Linked DNA regions of Homo sapiens: region 1 is linked to region 2. A link means that fine-mapping ties the variant in region 2 to the expression of a gene that starts in the linked region. Tissue or cell type: sun-exposed skin. Region 2 holds a variant in brackets; the other region holds the start of a gene. All regions are shown on one strand. Distances are between the middles of the regions.

Evidence for each region. PIP is the estimated chance that this variant, and not a neighbour inherited with it, causes the effect.
Region 1: TPCN2 starts here. The variant in region 2 is fine-mapped to the expression of TPCN2 in sun-exposed skin (GTEx, PIP above 0.99).

Annotation. Positions count from the first base shown.
Region 1 is chr11:69,045,350-69,053,490 of GRCh38, reverse strand. TPCN2 (two pore segment channel 2) reads right to left here and starts at 4,559. Exons shown (of 25, transcript NM_139075.4): 1 at 4,385-4,559. The coding sequence starts at 4,493. RefSeq lists enhancers at 1-430, 1,581-2,155 and silencers at 4,132-4,231, 4,312-4,481, 4,602-4,821.
Region 2 is chr11:69,068,967-69,077,142 of GRCh38, reverse strand. It overlaps TPCN2 (two pore segment channel 2), which reads right to left. Exons shown (of 25, transcript NM_139075.4): 9 at 6,648-6,713; 10 at 5,723-5,787; 11 at 5,120-5,220; 12 at 4,435-4,516; 13 at 4,142-4,228. Among named protein-coding and RNA genes, the nearest start is that of MIR3164, 10 kb to the left of the region's middle. The variant C/T (reference allele first, on the strand shown) is at 4,212.

The DNA.
Region 1 (8,141 bases), 24 kb after region 2:
CCAGTGTCCCACCCACCCCCATCAAACCAGACCTCGGATTCAACAGTGACAGGGAGAACTGGCATCTAGAACCCAAAGGCACTGCCATGAGGCTTCATGAGTGCTACCAAGGTCCCATTCCCTCACTGTCCCGGTCCATGGGCCCAGGCAAGCCCACCCAAATCACTCCCAGGGTCAGAGCTGCAGGAACGCCCGAGTCCCCCAGCCTCTGCCGGTGCCTTCTGTGGTGAAGGGTGGCCGCCCGCCTTTACCAACAGCACAAGCAGGGTGGAGCCTCCCGGCAGGCCTGGGCAAAAGCGGCAGTGGCTCCTGACTAGGAGGGGCCTTCAGGAAAAGTCAGGCGGCACAGAAGCCAGGACCCAGCACCCTGGCCTGCTCACAAGCCCCTCACCTGCCACAGAGCAGCCAGCGGGCGCACCTGGTCAGCCACTGAGCCACTGCAGGGAGCCTGGGCCACCCACCCGCATCGTAGGCACGGGCCACCTCTGGCCTCGCTGCAGAGCTGCTCCCCAGCAGGCCAACAGGGAAGGAAAACTCAACCCGAAGCAACTGAGGAGCCCGGAGAGGCTGACACTTCCCAGCACGGGGAGAGGGTGAAGCAGCTGCTTTTTCAGTTGAGACTCGGCTTTCACACCTGGCCCCTTGGGGCCCACAGCTGCACCAAGACAATGTGGTGACATGGGAGGCAGCAGCAGAGGCCTCAGGAGGTGCTGGTCCCCAGGCAGAGCTCCAGGCCATGACCCGCCCACGCCACTGGCCATCCTTAGGGAGGCAGCTGCCCCTGTCCTCGGGGCTCCTGCTTGGGGGCATGAGGTATAGGCAGCTGGGCCCTGGACGGATTAGAGGTGTGAGGGGCCCCAGACAGAGGCAGGAGACCGGACCCCACCCTCACTCTGCCCGGCCCTGCTGCACTGCCGGGAGCAAGAGCCTTCCCTCCCTGTGGCTTTGGTGCCCACATGCACAGCCACGAGACCCACCCTGAGGACACCCGAATGTCTCCCCAGGGAAGCTCTGAAAGTGGCTACTGTTTATGTCCCCTGAGCACATCCTGGGATCGCTATGAACAGAAGCCACACTGTTTTGTTCCCTGCTGTATCTGCAGAGCCCAGAAGTCAAGCACACAGGACTCAAAGCTGATATATCCCATGAATAAATGAACAGCCCTGAGGGGAGCCTGGGGGGCCGGTGATCTGAGAGGCCCCACCTTACCAGATTCCCTGGGAGAAGACAAAATCTCTACCAGGAGAGATCTAGTGATACAAGCTTCTTAGACAAGAGACAAGCGGCCGAGTTCCGGGCCTCACTCCAGCCCCAGGACCACGGAAAGTACTCACATCCACCCAGGCCAGCCATCCCAGGCCAACAGTGGTGGGCACCCCTGGAACCATCCAGCACTCGTGGTTCCCTTTCGCCTGGCTTTTTGGTTGCTGGTTTGTAAAATTCTGGGTCTGGCCATCCTCCGTTTCACCCTGCAACAGCCCAAGGATCTCGTTCCAAACACTCAGAAGCACATCGCAGCTTCCCCTGGGCCCCCACTATTCCAGGCCCACACTCCACCCTGGTCTGGCACTGCAGGTTCCCACATTTGCCGGCCCGCCTCTCTCCTGCCTTTCAACCCTCAGTGCCACTCATTCCGAACTGGGCTCTGCCAAGGCCATGCTCTCCAAAGCCTCCAACCCTTTACTCAGGCTGCTGCTTCTGCCAGGAGCACCATCCCCCAATTTGTGAGTCCAGGGACTCCCTTGGGACAGCTCGCCCCGCCCTGAGCTCATCACCCTGGGGGACAATCACCTTTCCACACACCATCACCCACTGGGGCTGAAGGGTTCTGCAAGGCACAGAGGACAGCAGGGGCTGAGATGCTGCATCCGGCACACCAGGCCTCGACACGGCTTCCTAATCCAAGCCTCTGCCCCGCAACATCCAGGTCTGAGCTCCCGCTCCCCTGTTGCTCCAGGCTCCAGGCTGCACAACCTGTGTAGGGTCCTGACCATCATCCTCTGTGACCCTGGGCAAGTCCCTTAACCTCTAGGTGCTCCAGGTCCTCATGGACCCCCACCCAATAGGAGCTAAGTACAGACTGAATGACTTACTATAGCCAGAGTACTTTGCTAAGTGAGCCCTTCATAAGCATTCAGTTACTCTGAAAGCCTCTACAGCATCGCAATCCCTTGTCCTCTGACTTGTTTGATAACCAGTAAAAGTGTGATTTTTCTGACCCAGCAACAAGAGAAAACAACTGTTCTCAACCTTTGACCCCGGCCCCATCAGGTGGGGCCAAGTCAAAACGACCCAACAGCAGGGTCCACTGGGGTCCTTGGGGCACCCACAGCAGCAGCCCTCACCACAACCCGTTGGCAAGAGACCAACCACAGGACTTGCAAACCAGAGCACAGGGCCTTCATTTCAAAGCCTGGCACAGGCCTCAGCACAGAGACTGAATGAGCCTTTCGGAGTCTCCATGGCTCCATAGTCTGCCAGTCCTTGCTGGGGACCCTGGCCAAGGGGATTCAGAACACAGAGCGTCCTGTCCACGTTCTCAGAAGCCCTGGCTGAGGCCACAGCATAGGGACAAAGAGCGCTCCCCGAGAGCCTCCTCTTGTCAGCCACACTGCCCAGCAGAGCGGGTCTCACCTGCCAGGGAGGACCTGCAATGATCACAGAGCTTACCCAGGACGGCCACTGGCCCCCACACCAGCCCGCCGGGCCCTGTGCTGAGGACAAACTCTGGATTCTCTCTGAATCCTCACAATGCCCGCCAGGCAGTCCTTAGTATTATCTCCCTTTTACTGAGATTCGGAAAGGTGAAGCATGGCCAGGCACAGTGGCTCACGCCTGTAATCCCACCACTTTGGGAGGCCGAGGCAGGCAGATCACCCGAGGTCAGGAGTTTGAGACCACCCTGGCCAACACAGTGAAACCCCATCTCTACTAAAAATACAAAAATTAGCCAAGTGTGGTGGCGGGCGCCTGCAGTCCCAGCTACTTGGGAGGCTGAGGCGGGAGAATCGCTTCAACCCAGCAGAGGTAGAGGCTGCAGTGAGCCGAGATCACGCCACTGCACTCCAGCCTGGGTGACAGAGTGATACTCCATCTCAAAAAAGAAACAGAAAGGTTAAGCAACCTGCCAAGGTCACACAGCCAGTGCAGCCCCAGAAAGGCGCCCAGACCCCTAGACACAAAGTCTGTGTTCCCTGAACGGTGCCATATGCTGGGCGTCTCATCAAGGGGCCTGCCAGAGCTGCTCCCTGCAGATCTCCTTCCTGACTGGTCCCAGGAAGCACCTGAAGAACTTCCTGGAGGCAGCTTCTGAGGTGAGCAGACAGGGTGGCCACCTTGGCCTCTGGTTTTTCATCTCTCGTCAGGGTCCCCTCCTTGGCCCCTCATTACTCCATGGATGGGCACATGCCACAGACCAGTGGGTGGGCACCAGGATTCCAACCCAGTTCCTTCCAGACAGAGGAGGAAAGAAGGAAAGAGAGGCCAGAGAGGGAAGGAGCCAGGTGTGAATTCTCAGAGTGGTTCGAGCAGCAGCCGCACCAGAACAGAGGGCTGTGACCTTGGGCAGGTCTCAGGGCCTCTCTGGGCCTCAGTTTCCTCATCTGTGAAGTGAAGCTAAGGTCCTTCCACCTCTTAATCCAGAATCTCATTCCCCTGGTGTCAGCGAGGGGCGGACGCACCCCACCCTCGGGGGGCGGATTCAGCAATCTTCAGACCAGGACAAAAAACGGGAAGGGCAGGAGGGAGTGCAGAGGGGACTCTGGGGTGGCAGAGGGCAAGGAGAGGAAGCCGCCCCCGTCTAGGGGGCCCGCCCCAGCCCCACGGGAAGTGGGACGGGGAAAGGCACCCTACAAAGAAAGGACTCCTAGCTCCCAACTGGTTCGAATCCCACCTCGGCCACTTACTGGGTGTGTGACCTTGGGTAGGGTAACGCCTCTCTGTGAGCCTCTGCTTTTTCCAGAAGAAACGGGAAAAATCAAAGTGCTGCCTTCTCTGAGTCAATTAGGCGACCCTCATTACGGCGACAGTCGGGAAGTATGGGGTCTGGGCCCGCCCGGGCACACGGAGGGTGCCTGCCGCAGGTGGCCGGTTCCCTCGGGGCTGCCCAAGGCTGGGCGAGGGCCTCTTCGCCCAGCTGGTCGGGATCAGGACGCGACACGGAAGAGACCCCAGCTCTGCCCTGACCCCGGTCCGGGTCCGCAGGACGCAGCCCACTCGCCCTCAGAACACCGGCTCGCCTGGCACCCGGCGCGGCCCGGGCCCCGCTCGGACTCGAACCTGGTGGGGGCGCGCCCGGCAGAAAGCGGGGTGCTGGGACAGCGGGACCCCCACGCGCGACCCTGGTCTCCCGGGCCAGTCCCCTCCCCAGGTCCGGGCGGCTCACCAGGGCCGACTTGGATGCTGCGGTAAGTGGTCAGCCCCGCCGGCCAGTCGCCGCCACCGCCGCGGGCCCCGCCCAGCAGGGGCTCCGACTCCGCCTGGGGTTCCGCCATCCAGCAGCCCACGCGCTGGACCCGACCCTCAGAAGCTCAAGCCCCGAAGGCGCCCAGCTTCACTGCGCAGGCGCGGAGACCCCGTCCCTGGCGTTTTTGCTGACGCGCGCACGGCACTGTGGCGCAGGGGATCCCTGCAGTCCCAGCCAATGAGAACGGGGAGGGAGGGGTGGGGTTCTCCTGAGTGGGGCGGAGCTAAAGGGCCCCGCCCCTCTAGGGTGGAGCTCAGCTTCGTTCCACCCAGGGCGGGGCAGCGTTCTGGGGCTTAAGGGCCGAGGGCTGGGGAGGAAATATGTTCTCAAAGGATGTCTTTCCGGCCAGAAGCTTCAGCATCACCTGGAAACATTTTAGAAATGCAAATTCTTGGGCCCTTAAACCTACTAAATCAGCAACTCTGCGGGGAGGACCCAGGAATCTGTGTTTTAACAAGCATTCGGGGTGATTCTGATGCATGTGAGTATTGAGTACACGGGGTGACTGCAAAGGACTCCCCCCAGAATGGAACTGGAGTTTACCCTCTGATGGTGAAATTAGGAGGATTCAATATCATTAAGGGAAAAGTTTAAAAACATATGACACACTTAAAAAATATTTACAACGTATATAAAAAGTGTTTTCAACATTAATGCATAAAGACCTTGTATTCGTTTTCTATTGCTACAGTGACTAATTACCACAATCTGAAAATATAAAATAACTCCCATTCATCATCTTTCAGTCCTGCGGGGCAGGAAACCTCCTGTCTCAGGGCCTCACGAGGCTAGAGTCAAAATGTCAGCTGCCGTGGGCTCTTATCTGCAGACTCTGGGGAAAGCCCACTTCCAGGCTCATCCAGGATGTTAACAGAATTGTCTCCATGGGCCTAGGACTGAAGTCCACGTCTTCTTGCTGGATGTTGGCTGGTGTCATTCTCACTCCTAGAGGCCACTGCATTCCTTCCACGATGGCTTGAACACCTCCATCATCAGAGCCAGCAAGCAAGAGCACGCTGAAGACGCTTCGAGATGCAGCAAGACGCCTGTAATCCCAGCCCTTTGGGAGACCGAGGCAGGTGGATCACGAGGTCAGGAGATCGAGACCATCCTGGCCAACATGGTGAAGCCCCGTCTCTACTGAAATACAAAAAGTTAGCCAGACGTGGTGGCACGTGTCTATAGTCCCAGCTACTCGGAGGCTGAGGCAGGGGAATCGCTTGAACCCGGGAGGCGGAAATTGCAGTGAGCTGAGATTGCGCCACTGCACTCCAGCCTGGCAACAGAGCGAGACTCCATCTCAAAAAAAAAGGTGCTGCAAGACGCTTCCAATCTCTGTGACTTCCCCTTCTGCCATACCTCTTTACTTTTTCCCCCTCTTTTGGGGAGGGGGGAGGGTTTAAAATAAATATAAAATTTACCATCATAACTGTGAAAGGAAAATAAATCTCAGGACTCCAAAATCACTAAGCCAAAGGGAAAAGTCAAGCTGGGAACTGCGTTGGGCAAACTGCCTCGCCTTTTCTTCTTTAATAAAATAGCTACGAAGATTTAAAAAGCTACATACCTCCCTCACAATTTGCCCGCTAGGAAATTTTTCGTGGGCACCCAAGATCTTTACCCTAAAACAGTTTTGTTGAATTTTACCCTAACAATGTACATTGACAACTGATCTTCACAGGTTCCAAACAAAGGATGGAACTCTAAGTCATCCCTCTGCTCACCTGATTGCTTCCTCTGGTATAAAAGTGCAGATTCACCGAGCCAGACTAAGGCATAAGTGACTATTCCTCTACCCCCGCAACCTGTAAATTGTGTATTTCAGTGAAAGTCTGATCAAAGACTCACAAGAATGCAACCTTTGTCTCTTATCTCTCCACATATTTTTAAAATTTCTCCCTCTTTCCCAATATCCACCCTTTCCCTTTTTTTTTTTTTTTTTTTTTTTTGAGACAGAGTCTTGCTTCGTTGCCCAGGCTAGAGTGCAGTGGTGCGATCTCAGGTCACTCAGCAACCTCCGCCACAGCACCTGGCCAGTTTCCCCTTTAAATATTGAAGTCCTACAAATCATCCTTGAAGGAAGGCATAGACCTGCCTCCCAGGCACTCCTTAACCTTGGCAAAATAAACTTACTAAATAGATCGAGACCTGTCTCAGATATTTTTAGTTCACATAACTATATTGAAGTGTACAGCTCATTGATATTAAATATATTAATGATGCTATACAACTATCACCTCCAACTCCAGAACTCTTTTTATCTTGCAAAACTGAAATTCTGGACCCATTAAGCACTGACTCCTCATTCCCTCAGCCCCTGGAAACCACCATTCTCCTTTCTATCCCTAAGATTTTGGCGACTCTAGGTTCCTCATTTAAGTGGAATCCTGCAGTATTTGTTCTTTTGTGACTGGCTTATGTCATTTAGCCTAAAATCCTCAAGGTTCATCCATGTAGCATGTGTCCAAATTTCCTTCCTTTTTAAAGCTGAATAATACTCCACTGTATGTATCCATGACATTTTGCTTATCCAGTCATCCATGGATGGGCACTGGGTTGCTTCCACCTTTTGACTATTGTGAATAATGCTGCTGTGAACATGAGTGTACAAATAATTCGTCAAGACTCTGCTTTCAGGCCAGGTACAGTGGCTCATGCCTGTAATCCCAGCACTTTGGGAGACCAAGGCAGGCGGATCACCTGAGGTCAGGAGTTCGAGACCAGCTTGACCAACATGGTGAAACGCCGTCTCTACTAAAAATACAAAAATTAGCCAGGCATGGTGGCAGGCGCCTGTAATCCCAGCTACTCAGGAGGCTGAGACAGGAGAATCGCTTGAACCTGGGAGACAGAGGTTGCAGTGAGCCAAGGGCTCATATGATTATGTCTGAGGCATTCGAACCAGAGCGACTCCATCTTGAGTTAGGACTAGGAAAAATGAGGCTGGGACTTGCTGCGACTCCATCTTGAGTGAGGACTAGGAAAAATGAGGCTGGGACTTGCTGCGACTCCATCTTGAGTGAGGACTAGGGAAAATGAGGCTGGGACTTGCTGCGACTCCATCTTGAGTGAGGACTAGGAAAAATGAGGCTGGGGCTTTATCAGGCTGCATTCCCAGAAAGTGAGGCGTTCACAGTTAAGGGAACAGATTGATAATGTTTACTAAGCAGACCTAGACTTGGGAGTGTGCTGATATCCTGATATCTTCAGAACAGAAGCATCCCTAATTTTGCTTTAAAGGTAATAATATCAATTCTTGCAAAATACAGTAATTAGGAAAATTCTTTATCACAAACCCCAGTGGCAGAGCACGTGTCCTCATGATCTTTGATCTTTTTTCATCCTATATATAAACGAGTATTATACCTAGGGTGGACACGTTCCTCCTTACTTTCCGGAACGTCCTAACTCTGTCTATGGAGCAGCTGTTCTGTCACCACTTTACTTTCTTTTCTTTTTTTTTTCTTTTTTTTTTTTTTGAGACAGAGTCTCGCTCTGTCGCCAGGCTGGAGTGCAATGGCACGACCTCAGCTCACTGCAACCTCCGCCTCCCAGGTTCAAGGGATTCTCCTGCCTCAGCCTCCTGAGTAGCTGGAATTACATGCACACGCCACCACGCCCAGTTAATTTTTGTGTTTTTAGTAGAGACGGGGTTTGACCATGTTGGCCAGGCTGG
Region 2 (8,176 bases):
GGCAGGTGGAGGGACATGGCAGGAGGGCAGGAGGGCAAGTGGAGGGACATGGCAGGAGGGCAGGAGGGCAAGTGGAGGGACATGGCACGAGGGCAGGTGGAGGGACATGGCAGGAGGGCAGGAGGGCAGGTGGAGGGACGTGGCAGGAGGGCAGGTGGAGGGACATGGCAGGAGGGCAGGTGGAGGGACACAGCAGGAGGGCAGGTGGAGGGGCATGGCAGGAGGGCAAGTGGAGGGACATGGCAGGAGGGCAGGAGGGCAAGTGGAGGGACATGGCATGAGGGCAGGAGGGCAAGTGGAGGGACATGGCACGAGGGCAGGAGGGCAGGTGGAGGGACATGGCAGGAGGGCAGGTGGAGGGACACGGCAGGAGGGCAGGTGGAGGGACACAGCAGGAGGGCAGGTGGAGGGACACAGCAGGAGGGCAGGTGGAGGGACACGGCAGGAGGGCAGGTGGAGGGACACGGCAGGAGGGCAGGTGGAGGGACACGGCAGGAGGGCAGGTGGAGGGACACCGCAGGAGGGCAGGTGGAGGGACACGGCAGGAGGGCAGGTGGAGGGACAGAGCAGGAGGGCAGGTGGAGGGACAGAGCAGGAGGGCAGGCCTCCCCTGCGGTTTCCGGATGCTACGGGGTGGATCGGAGTGTGGTGTTAAGCACATCTGGACACGCTCTGTCCGAGACACATAGTCCCCAGGGGACCTACAGCCACAGCCTGACCTCCTGAAAATTTCCCAGCTTCCCACAGTCCTCAATGTGGAAACCAGTGCCCAAAGGCCACCTGCCCACACTGGCACCGAATTCCCTCGGCAGGACCACGCCACTGCCTGCTCACAGCCTGGGCCTGCTGCACCCAGGAGGGTCGCCTCCTGCTTACCCAGTGACCACAAACCAACCGCAGCCCGGGGAAGCCAGTGAACGTCTCTGCATTCCTGTGGGCAAAACCACACCTGCTCTCAAGAGGTCTGAACCCCAGCTTCGGAGGGTCCCCTTCCAGGTCCATCCTTCCTCATGCACTCCCCTCAGCCCAAGGACACCACATGGTTTCCTTACATCTTGCAGTTACTCTTTTATCGTAGTTGCCACTGCCGTACATGACACTTTCTGTTTAACCCAGACGGACACCTTGGCCAAGAGAGATTTCAGCATTATCTATTACGTCTAAATTGTTACAAGGAGAAGGTGTTCATATGTTAGCTGTGTAACTGAGAGATAACTGATATGACTAAAGTGCTTGTCTCTGGGTAGAAAGCCCGTGAGGTGGATTTTCCCACTTCCCTCTGTTGTCTATAATGAATGACCACTACATTTTTAACCCCAAAAGCTTCTCATATGAAGAGGAGACTTCTTTCAGCAGCAGGCAGGGCACCTTCTCTGAAGCTCGCCAGCAAGCACCAACCGACTCCCTGGCCACGGCCAGGCTGACGCCCAGGCAGTGACCCCACACGGGAGGGCTCTCGAAAAGGCTGGAGCTCCCATGACGTCAGCCTGCCGAGAAAGGACCTCTTTGTGCTTCCAAAACCACAGGCTGCCCCAAATCTGAGCAATCCCAGAAGCATCTGCCTCCCAAACTGAAGCTCTGCCAGCCCTTCACGTCAGCGGGCTCTGCGTCCGCAGACTGAACCAACTGCAGATCAAAACATACTCAGGGAAAAAGCATCTGTACGGAGCATGTACAGGTTTTCTTACCCTTATTCCCCAAACTCCCACTGCATTCCTAGGTGCTAGGTATTCCAAGTAGTCTAGAAATGACTTAAAGTATACGGAAGGATGTGTGTAGGTTACATGCAAACACTACATCATCTTAAGAGACTTAAACATCCATGGATTTTGTATCCACATGGAGTCCTAGAACCAATCCCTGCAGATACCGAGGGGCAACGGCCTCCCCTCTACAGTCAGCATTATTGAGGAAAGAAGGAGTCAGAAAACCAGATTAAGGCTATTGTGGCTCCCAAAACCTGTGGAACCTAAACTCCCATCTCAAAGCCCAGTGCTCGGTGCCCTGGGAAGAGCATCGCCGGGACCTCCAGGGAGACCACCAGGCTGGGAATCAGGCCAGGCCTGCGTGTTGGGCCTTCCCCACTCCTGTGCGCACACAAGCCCGCTCTACTGGGTCACGGCCAAAGCAATCCATCCGCCCTTCCTCCACATCATCACGGGAGGAGGAACCCCTTTCCAGGTCTCACCAAATCCTGACACTGGAAAAGGGTGGGAGAGTCAGCTCTGGACAACCAGGACTCAACCACGCCCTAGGGAACGGCAACAACTGCCCAGGGAGAGCCCAGATGGCCCAGAACACACCAGGAGCAAAGCCTGAGGAACAAAAACCACCTTTCCAGAACCTTTAGGATGACTGGCTTCTCCCAGCCTGTGTCTGCCTGCCCCTTTAGTCATATCAGTTATCTCTCAGTTACACAGCTAACATACGAACACCTTCTCCTTGTAACAATTTAGACATAATAGATAATGCTGAAATCTCTCTTGGCCAAGGTGTCCGTCTGGGTTAAACATGGGCCGGATCACAGCAAACCTAGCCTACGACAGCCGCTAAGAGCTGCTTCCTGAGCCCCAAACAGCTCCGCCCCTAGGACAAGCGCCTTTATCTAGAATGGTGCTTCTTAACTTTCTGTTATCTGAGGACCATCTCCACAGTTTCTGTGAAATCTGCACCTGGTAAAATTTATTTCGTATCTTCAAGTCAACCTTAAGTTGATAACGCATTGCCCAGCCTTGTCCCAAACAGAGGTTTGATGGCGTGAATATTCAAACTGCCACCTACTGATCCTCACCACACTCATCGCCCATATGCCCCAAGGGGCTGGGGGTGCCACAATGAGGAATGCAGCCCTAAAGAGGATGCCCGAAGTGAGGATGGGGACGAGTGCGTGGCACTCAAGCTCAGGCTGGGGCAGGGCCTGACTACAGAGGTCTGGAAGGACCTTAGGAAAACAATGTTTTTTAGAGAACCACCTCTGACAGGGTCCTGCAGCCACAGGGGCCGACAAGGAATCCTGAAGCAGCTGACAGTTGCTATGGGTTGAATTTTGTCTCCCTCGAAATTCGTATCTTTAACCTCTAACCCCCAGTAGCTCAGAATGTGACTATATTTGGAGACAGGGCCTTTTAAAAGGTAATTTAGTTAAAACAAGGCCATTAGAATGGGCCCTAATCCAATCTGAATAGGGTCCTTATAAGAGGAGGAGATGACACACAGAGGGATGACCACGTGAGGATACAGGGAGAAGGCGATGTCTACAGCCATGGAGAGAGGCCTCAGGTGAGGACACAGGGAGAGGCTGGCATCTACAAGCCACGGAGAGAGGCCTCAGGTGAGGACACAGGGAGAGGCTGGCATCTACAGGCCACGGAGAGAGGCCTCAGGTGAGGACATGGGGAAAGAACAGCACCTACAAGCCACTGAGAGGGGCCTCAGGAGGAACCAGCCCTGTGACACTTGGCCTTGGACTGACGGCCAGGACTGTGAGATAACAAATGTCTGCTGCTTCAGCCCTGCCCCCGCCCCAGTCTGTGGTGCCGTCCCAGGAGCCTGAGCAAACGAGAAAAGTGACACAGAACTGGCAGGCGTCTGCCACCCCACCTCTCTGCCCCATCCCTGTTCCAGGGTCTGGCTCAGTCCTCTGAGGCTGAGCAGCTGGAATGGCAGCCCCCGTGCTGCCCCCACACTGCCTGTGAGCACCTGGGCTGTTTCCCACTGTCTCCACCCACCTGGCCCAGGCCTTCTGGACACAGAGCTTAGTCGGATGCTGAGGCCCACCTGGGAACTTTGTAAGTGTCAAGGGTGAAAGGCAAAGGCCTTGGAGAGGACCAGTGTGTGGACCTCCTGAGGAAGGACAGACAGGAAAAGGAGAGTCTGTCATGGAAACCGAGAAGACCATTTGGAAGACTCCTTCATGTCGGGCTGGGCTCAGGCTAGTTCCTGGGGTCTGGTGAATTTCATAAAAATCTCCCCAGTCTCCAAGAGCCAAAGAGAACTCCATTCCCAGTTCCCATACTAGGAGCCAGGATCCCTGGCAGGTGAATCCCAGCACTGATCATTAGAAGAGTTCCCCAGGTGATCAAGGGCAGGGGAAACTGGAAGGCCCCCACTATCCACCCTGGGCGGCTGTGGCCCCAGTTACCTCTTTAACCACACTTCTGTCAAGCTCGTTGAAGAGCTTCTGAAACTCCTCAGCTGAGAGCAGAACACTG[C/T]CATAGGAACGCACCTTCTGCACAGGAAGGAGCACAGGTCAGCAGGGGCGCACGGGAAGGTGAGCGCCCTCGAAGGTGAGCGCCCCCAGCCCCAACCCCACCCTGACGGGCTGTGAATGCTGCAGGTGACCTGAAGCCACACCCCTAGTCCTGAAAAGGGGCTGCTGGCCCAAGTGACCTCCCGGGAGGAGCCCAGAGGAGGCTGGGAGCAGGGGGCGGGTACCTCCATCATGGCCTGTTTGTGGGAGCTGTCCAGCTGGACCTTCTGAAGCACCTGCAGCAAGTTCTGGGGCTTCACCCCAACTCTGCAGGGAAAAACCCACAGCCCGGTGAGCACAGCCAGCTCGGCTCCCTTGGAACCCTGGCCTGGGTCCTCCTGCCCTGGCGTCTGGCTTGAGCTTTGCCATGAAGCCACTTTGCAGCTTGAGCCACACCAAGAGCCCCTGTAACGAGCATCCTGCCACTGCCGTCCCCCCGAGAAGGCGCAAACTGACTTCACCACTATGAGCAGTCAGGACCAGAACTTTCCACTGCAATGTCCCTCAAGCTCTCTGCCCTCATTTCCAAGCAGGATGGTGGTGTGGACACCTGGCCCACGCACCTCTGGCTCTGCTGCCTAAGTCAGCACAGAAGGGTAGAAGAGCACAAAGGGGGACAAGAAGGCCGGGCCACTCGGCCCTTCACCAGCCCAGGGTCCCCGGGGGGCACGAAGACAAAGGCATGGACTCAGGACAAGGACGCCGGGAACCACAGAGCGCCAGGGACATGGTGGTTTCCATGAGTCGGGTGCCAGCCAGCAGGGGCGAGGCACAGGCCAAGCACAAGAAGCCCCTAATGAACACCCGGCCCCTGCCCAGCAGCCACAGCACCCACCCTCAGGGAGAAGAGGGTCCATGCCCAGCACTCACGCCTGAGGGAAGGCTCCTCCCTCCCCCACCATGGAGGATAGGACTTCAAAGGCAGCCCGGGTTCCCAGCCGCCTCCGAAACAGCGAGGTCTGGAGAGATTTCTGCAAAGAGGAAGGCTATGAACGGCAGGATCAGCCCTCCCCCAGCTCAGAACCCCCGACCCTTCCCTCCCCTGGGGAACAGGCAGAGGGGGAGTCTGGGCAGCCTTGGGGGGGGGCCCAGTTCCCCACAGCCTGGGGGCAGCCCCTCACCCCCCAGGAATGAGAGGATTGGTCAGACTCCCGGGACAGGCCGCACAGGAAGGAGTCTGACGGGCGTGCTGCGCAATATGCTGGGCCGCGTTTCTCCTCTGTGTGTTGGGGGCGCCCCCAGCTCCCCCTCAAGAGGGTTTAGGGTCTGCTGTCCTGGGAGTTGCCATCTCTGGCAGTGGCTAGAGCAACAACACATGTGCATCCCCGGCTGATCCACAAGAGGTGGCAACCCTGCCCTCCCGTCCCACCAGGGGCCTGGCCAGCAAGGGTCACCCAGCTGCTCATCTCAAGCCACACCCTGCTTGGCCTCCCGGCAGCTCCAGGCACAGCCAGCATTGGGGAGCTCGCTCACCATCAGGTAGCCCCGGAACTGACTGTAGATGATGGCTGTCAGCAGGTTCATCAGAAACAGGCTTCCTTCAAGAGGAGACAGCCACGGTCAGGGGCGCCACCAGTACAGCAGCAAAACCAACGCAAGGGTGGCCGGCACAGGATAGCACAGCGCCGGGGGCGTCCCCTATCAAATGGAAACATGGCCTGGCCAGCGCAGTCACAGGTGGGAGGATGACGAGGTCAATGGTGGGGACAGAACAGAAAGTGTGGGGTGGGGGATCCCTGGGGTGAAGCTGTTGGTGGGGGATCCCTGGGGTGAAGCTGTTGGTGGGGGATCCCTGGGGTGAAGCCGTGGCATGGGGGATCCCTGGGGTGAAGCTGTTGGTGGGGGATCCCTGGGGTGAAGCTGTTGGTGGGGGATCCCCGGGGTGAAGCTGTTGGTGGGGGATCCCTGGGGTGAACCTGTTGGCGGGGGATCCCTGGGGTGAAGCCGTGGGGTGGGGGATCCCTGGGGTGAAGCTGTTGGTGAGGGATCCCTGGGGTGAAGCTGTTGGTGGGGGATCCCTGGGGTGAAGCTGTTGGTGAGGGATCCCTGGGGTGAAGCTGCTGGTGGGAGATCCCTGGGGTGAAGCTGTTGGTGGGGGATCCCTCGGGTGAAGCTGTTGGTGGGGGATCTCTGGGGTGAAGCTGTTGGTGGGGGATCCCTGGGGTGAACCTGTTGGCGGGAGATCCCTGGGGTGAAGCCGTGGGGTGGGGGATCCCTCGGGTGAAGCTGTTGGTGGGGGATCTCTGGGGTTAAAAGCTGTTGGCAGGGGATCCCTGGGGTGATCTCTGGAGTGAAAAACACGGATGTGAAGTTTCAGGTCGTGGAGGCAGCAGGGTGTATCGGTCCCTGAGCTCTCGGGATCCTGTCACAAAATGCTGGCCACGTTACCTGCACTCACCTATCACAGTGAAGACTATGAAGAAGATGGCATAGGCCCGGTTCTTGGAATACGCAGGAATCATCACTAAAAGAAAAAAGAAATAACAGAAACTGACAACCTCAGTACCTGATCCCACTCCCATCCTGACGCTACACTATTTGCTTTTGCAATAGAAAGGAGGTCTCCATTGCTGAGCGTGGTGGCTCACGCCTGTAATCCCAGCACTTTGGGAGGCTGAGGCGGGTGGATCACTTGAGGTCAGGAATTCCGAGACCAGCCTGGCCAACATAGTAAAACTCCATCTCTACTAAAAATACAAAAATTAGCCAGGTGTGGTGGCTCATGCCTGTAAACCCAGCTACTCGGGAGGCTGAGGCAGGAGAATCACTTGAACCTGGGAGGTGGAGGTTGCAGTGAACCGAGACTGCACCACTGCACTCCAGTCTGGGTGACAGAGCATGGCACCATCTCAAACAAAAAAAAAAAAGAAAGAAAGAAAAAAAGAAAGAAAAGGAAAAAAAAGAAAGGAGGTCTCCTGGGAGGGCTGAAAGGCCTTCCTGTCCAAATTCGATCTCTTGCCTCTGCTCGCACACCCTCCAGGACGGGGAACTCCCTACCTATCAAGGATGTCCCTCTGCACACAGAGCTGAAACCTCCCTGCAGCCCTCCCCACAGTCAGTCCTGCTCCCCCTGCAGTCACTTCCTAGGACTCAGACGGTCCTGCTCCCAGTGCGGTCACTTCCTAGGACTCAGACGGTCCTGCTCCCAGTGCGGTCACTTCCTAGGACTCAGACGGTCCTGCTCCCAGTGCGGTCACTTCCTAGGACTCAGACGGTCCTGCTCCCACTGCGGTCACTTCCTAGGACTCAGACGGTCCTGCTCCCACTGCGGTCACTTCCTAGGACTCAGACGGTCCTGCTCCCAGTGCGGTCACTTCCTAGGACTCAGACGGTCCTGCTCCCAGTGCGGTCACTTCCTAGGACTCAGACGGTCCTGCTCCCACTGCGGTAACTTCCTAGGACTCAGACGGTCCTGCTCCCAGTGCGGTCACTTCCTAGGACTCAGACGGTCCTGCTCCCACTGCGGTCACTTCCTAGGACTCAGACGGTCCTGCTCCCACTGCGGTCACTTCCTAGGACTCAGACGGCCCTGCTCCCACTGCGGTAACTTCCTAGGACTCAGATGGTCCTGCTCCCACTGCGGTCACTTCCTAGGACTCAGACGGTCCTGCTCCCAGTGCGGTCACTTCCTAGGACTCAGACGGTCCTGCTCCCACTGCGGTCACTTCCTAGGACTCAGACGGTCCTGCTCCCCCTGTGTCACTTGCTAGGACTCAGACAGTCCTGCTCCCACTGCGGTCACTTCCTAGGACTCAGACAGTCCTGCTCCCACTGCGGTCACTTCCTAGGACTCAGATAGTCCTGCTCCCCCTGTGGTCACTTCCTAGGACTCAGACAGTCCTGCTCCCACTGCGGTCACTTCCTAGGACTCAGACAGTCCTGCTCCCACTGCGGTCACTTCCTAGGACTCAGACAGTCCTGCTCCCA